Regions from separate parts of the Homo sapiens genome. Here region 1 is linked to region 2. Evidence: fine-mapped expression QTL. A gene starts in region 2. The other region holds a variant in brackets. All regions are shown on one strand. Distances are between the middles of the regions.

Region 1 (2,921 bases), 48 kb before region 2:
AAAGCTGTCAAATTACTTCCCAGCTACCAATATCAGTTCCCAAATTTCACTGAGATCTAAACAAAACAATTTCAAAAAGTTTCCTTAGTTTACTGTCTAGAGAAATATATATATAATTAATATTATATTATATATATAATATAATATATATTATATATATAATATACTATATATTTTATATATATATATATTTTTTTTTTTTTTTTGAGATGGAGTCTCACTCTGTCGCCCAGGCTGGAGTGCAGTGGTGCGATCTCGGCTCACTGCAAGCTCCGCCACCCAGGTTCATGCCATTCTTCTGCCTCAGCCTCCCAAGTAGCTGTGAGCACAGGTACCCGCCACCATGCCCGGCTAATTTTTTGTATTTTTAGTTGAGACGGGGTTTCACCATGTTAGCCAGGATGGTCTCGATCTCTTGACCTCGTGATCTGCCCACCTTGGCCTCCCAAAGTGCTGGGATTACAGGAGTGAGCCACTGCACCTGGCCAGGAATAATATTTTTAACAATAATGACTCTAGTTATGTTCTGGATTCCAACTAATCACATAGATTCCAATATTATCTTTTTCTTATACAACTAATTGCACCCTATGCTTGAGCCAAAACTAGCCACCATTCCCTAAAACCTTCCAGCTTTTGGTCATGCCCATCCATTCAGCCTCTATCTCATCTTCTTACCTGAACTCTGGTCATCCCAAACCATGAACTGTGCTGCTATTTCCTCCCTGGCAAAGCTCTTCATTTGAGGCTCTTCTTTTCTTTCTTTCTTTCTTTCCTTTCTTTCCTTTCTTTTCTTTCTTCCTTTTTCTTTCTTTCTTTTCTTTCTGACAGTGTTCCTGCTCTATGTTGCCCAGGCTGGCCTCGAACTCCTGGGGCTTGAGTGGTCCTCCCACTTCAGCCTCCCAAGTAGCTGGAATTACAGGTGCACAAACCATGCCCAGCTGAGGCTGTTCATTTTCCTTTGCTCATATCTCCCCATAAGTCAAGATCAGGTTATCATCTTCTTGTATCTTCTTCACTGGATCCCCAAGGTATTATTTTACCATCTTACCTCAATAACCTCTTTCTTCAAAGTTCATAATACTCAATTTTATGACCCTCTCAATGTTAAATGTCAATCTCCAAGTCTCCCCCCAACATTCACTGAGGACTTCAGTACCAACTGTTTTCCTTTTCTCTTCTCATCCTGAAAGTCTTCATTATCCCCCTTGATGATATAACACCCAAACCTCATGGATCCTTGACATAACCTATTCTAACTTCTTCATCTCCATTCCCTTTCAATAATCCATTTCTTTTTTTTTTTTTTTAGGGGAAAGCACAAACTCAGTCTCCCACTACCACACATTATGCAGTCGAGTTTCCTGTATTTGGGGAAATCACAGGGGCCAACACACCCAGAGTGCAATGGATGGGCCTCACCCTGAGAAAACCACCTTTGTGATCATGGTATCTCCCCTGCCAGGTATCAATTATTTGTTGCTGGAGTGACACTTGGAATGGCTCTACTTCCAAAACCAAACACAGAGGGTCCACTCTCAGAACTACTTGTTGTTCTACTTCTCTTAAACCTTATACTCCCTGAATTTACCCTTAAACTGCCTCAAGGCCTTTAATTCATTAACCCTCTTGCCTATTTTCCAAAGCCATCATGTACTTTTGGGTTTTTTGGT[T/A]TTTTTTGGCGGGGGGTCTCAAATTCCTTTATTTAAAAAAAATTTATTTCCACAGGTTTTTGGGGAACAGGTGGTGTTTAGTTACATGAGTAAGTTCTTTAGTAGTGATTTATGAGATTTTGGTGTACTCATCACCCGAGCAGTATACACTGCACCATATTTGTAGTCTTTTATCCCTCACCCCCTTCCCACCCTTTCCCCCTGAGTCCCTAAAGTCCATTGCCATCATGTACTTTTGGACTGCATTTCCTTGTCTACTTAGGAAAGAGTCCATGGACAGTGAGACTTCAATAACAGTAACCAACACTCCCTATTCTCCTATCCCCTTGATTTTCCACCATCCCTATTATGTCAATTCTCACCCACAAATCAACCAAACTATTTATATTCTCCATTCCTGCTTACAAAGTACTGCTGAGTAAAATTATATACTCCTGGTCACCAGCTTCCCTTCCATCCTCCACTCCTAACAGAATGTTCTTTTTTTAAAGTTGGCAAATAAAAAGTATATATATTTATGGTATACAATATGATGTTTTGAAATATGTACACATTGTGGAATGGCTAAATTGAGCTAATAAGTAACATATGCATTACATCACATACTTTTTTGTAGTAAGAACACTTAAGAATGATCTTTTAAAACATAAATTAGTGGCCGGGTGCAGTGGCTCACGCCTGTAATCCCAGCACTTTGGGAGGCCAAGGCAGGCAGATCACGAGGTCAAGAGATCGAGACCATCCTGGCCAACATGGTGAAACCCCATCTCTACTAAAAATACAAAAATTAGCTGGGCGTGGTGGCATGCGCCTGTAATCCCAGCTACTCAGGAGGCTGAGGCAGGAGAATCACTTGAACCCGGGAGGCAGAGCTTGCAGTGAGCCAAGATCGGGCCACTGCACTCCAACCTGGTGACAGAGTGAGACTCCGTCTCAAAAAAAAAAAAAACAAAAAAAACCATAAATTAGGCCGGACTTCTGGAATGGCAGAGGAACTCAGCAAATCCTCTCTTCCTTAAAACAATGATAAAACTGGATTAAGAAGCAATTAAGAAAACCTGTGGAACCTTTGGCTAAGAACAGTGGGAGACTACGGGGCTGCTTCCATCTCCCCCACTCCCACTAGGTCCCCTGGAGCTGATTTTACAACGAAAGTCAAGGCAAGCCATAAAAAAATAACAATTTAGATGCTGGAGGGGAATTACTTCATAAAGAACGAGCACCAAAAAAGTCCTATGCCCAGGGGTG
Region 2 (2,921 bases):
AGTACTCTATCTGCACATTCCATCCTTGCATTATGGGCTAAGCACTAGAGAGTAAAGTCCTCTATCATGCATGCTGGAAGAAGCCACTCCTGGGCAATTCTGAAATGTCATGTATTAAAGTAACTACAGACCAGGGTCAGAATCCAAAAGGGTAATCTAGGACAGAAAGGGCAAAAAGCCATTCATATACAAAGTACCTAAACGAGAGTCAATAAATACTGAAATAAACATTCTGGATACTTCAAATCTAAAGGATCCACATAGAATGAAAGCAGTGACTGACAAGGCACCAATCCCAGGGCCAGGCCAGGTTTCAAGGCGAGACAGCACGTAGTATCTGCGAAAACTTAAGCATAAAACATTTCTCTCCTTCAGATGCTGATCCGACACAAGTTAGGAAAGCGCTCGGTCTCAAGGAGACTCCCTTTCTTATTTCTGCTCCCACAAGCCTACTGTCTGCCTTTTCTGGAATCTACCTTCCCTTTAATTCAAGGCTTTGCTTTACTCCATTATCCCAGGGAGACCTCATTAGAAAGCAGCCGGCCTTCCTGCCCTCCCTCTTCAGACTTCTCACAACCTAGTTTAGTTATGGAGCTCAGCGATATATCGCCTTGGCTTTCCATCCCCCAGCCCTCTTCCATCCTCCCTCCCTTCCTTCAGTCGCTACAGCCGTGATTCCTATCTCCTTGAATTCCTCACTCTAATCTTTTTCCATCCACCCCACCCTATCCAGCCATGCTTCACTTCCTCATGGGTAGCTTTCCTGCATCCCCGTCCGATGTCTCCCTCAGGAGTTTTCTGCATCCTCCGGCCACAACTGAATCGGCAGACCTCGTTCCAAGCCTATTATACCCCTAACCCCCAAATGACCCCTAAGGCGTCTTCCCCGCCGTTAGTTGCCCCCGCGGTAGCCTCCCTCCCCCCTCCCGCTCGCGCCGCCCGGTCCTCCCTCAGCTGTCTCCCTCACCCCGTGACTCACCCGCATGCGAACCTCATAGGTGGTGAAGCGCGCGCGTCCCACGCCCACCGTCTGAGGATTAAAGATGTCGATCTCCAGGAAGTTACTTGGCGGCCCGTAAGCGTCGGTCAGGTCCTGCGGCTTCGAGTTAAGGCGCCGGGTATCAGCTACTGCCGTGTCCGACATCTTTCCGAAGGAGAGCCTGGGACCGGGGAAAGGGGGTGGGGGACAGAGGCCTGAGGCAGGAGCGCGCACGGCCCCTCCCGCTTGCAAAATAACTAGCCAACCCACAGGCGGCGGCGGCGCGCACGCGCGCCCACGCACGCACGCGCACGCCGCACGGGCCTGGGCCCCGGGCTCTGAATAGCGGCCGTGCTGACTGCTGCGCGCCCTGTAGAGTGGAGGCCATATTCAGGCTTCCGGGTGATGTTTGTGGCCACCCGGGAACCTGCATCCCCAATACGCAGTACCCAATACCCTGCCTAGCAGCACAGGCTGGCTCCGCCAATCGCGGCTCCTCAACCCAAGAAATTGTCTCGTACCGTGTATCAATCAACAGTGGGCACTGCCCCGTGAGCCAGGCTCCTACAGTGATAGGCCGAAGCCCAGTGACCTGAATAAGTCCTGGTTTTCCGCGAAAATAGAAGGGTGGTCTATGGAGGGTGGGGTTCCAACAATAGTACTGAGAACCTATAACGTAGCCGTCCCACCTGTGCCACTGATGGTTTCAGTTCACGCCACACACAATGGCGCACTCAGCACTACGTATGGCGCCAGGAAAGCAGCAAGCAACTAGGATGGGGTAAAGAAAGACATTTCTCTCTTACTTTTCAGGAAAATTGGGCATATCTTACTCCTTGTTGCCACACTCCAGGTGTACTCAATCTTACATTTATCAGCAAATTGAGGGTACTTATTTCATACCTTCTATTTCTACTCCGCAGAACTCCATACTTGGCACTGCTCTGAGGTTGCTTGCAACCCATAATGGAGATAGAATAAATGTTTACATGAGAATATCTATAGAAATATTAATATTTATATGACTAATTTACATATGCTCCACATTAAAGGGTAGACTGGGTGATGATTTCAGGTCATCCTTTCTCCACCTTTCCCCTGCCCTCCTCTACTCAAAAAATATTTCCCATATCACTGATGCCTGAAATTCTTTCAACAGAGTATGAGGCCCTACAATTTCACAATTGCTGTTTAATTCAATTTAACCAATATCCACTAAGCAAATACGTGCCAAGCACCATGCTAAACACTAAAATCCTGGAGTTAAATAAGAGTCCCTGCCCTCAAGGAGTTAACATTCTAGCAAGGGAGACAAGTAAACAAAACTAATATAATGCGACAAATACAAAATAAGTAAATGTTCAAAGCAGCACATAGGAAATGTATAACTGGAAAAATTAGGGGAGGTTCCCCTGGAGGAGGAAACATCTGAGTTTAACAGACATGAAAAGACATAAAGGACAAATAGGAGTGGAAATAGGGAAAGGTAATTTCTGGAATAAGAAACAGCATATGCAGGCCGGGCGCGGTGGCTCACACCTGTAATCCCAGCACTTTGGGAGGCCGAGGCAGGCAGATCACTTGAGGTCAAGAGTTCGAGATCAGCCTGGCCAACATGGTGAAACCCTGTCTCTATTAAAAATACAAAAATTAGCTGGGCATGGTGGCACACGCCTGTAATCCCAGCTACTCAGGAGGCTGAGGCAGGAGAATCGCTTGAACCCGGGAGGCAGAGGTTGCAGTGAGCTGAGATCATGCCACTGCACTCCATCCTGGGCAACAGAGCAAGACTCCATCAAAAAAAGAAAGAAAGAAAAGGAAAAGAAAAGAGAGAGAGAGAGAGAGCGAAAGAAAGAAAGAATACACAAAGTCCTTGCGATAAGAAACAGTGGAGCATTTTTAGGCATTTATCGCCAATTCAGACTGTGTGATGGAAGTGTTT

What was found. PIP is the estimated chance that this variant, and not a neighbour inherited with it, causes the effect.
Region 1: its variant is fine-mapped to the expression of SNX12 in blood mononuclear cells (TOPMed, PIP above 0.99).

What each region holds. Positions count from the first base shown.
Region 1 is chrX:71,018,966-71,021,886 of GRCh38, forward strand. It overlaps the pseudogene RNU1-56P. Among named protein-coding and RNA genes, the nearest start is that of SNX12, 48 kb to the right of the region's middle. The variant T/A (reference allele first, on the strand shown) is at 1,674.
Region 2 is chrX:71,067,163-71,070,083 of GRCh38, forward strand. SNX12 (sorting nexin 12) reads right to left here and starts at 1,172. Exons shown (of 4, transcript NM_013346.4): 1 at 980-1,172. The coding sequence starts at 1,144. RefSeq lists silencers at 1,135-1,328, 1,168-1,387.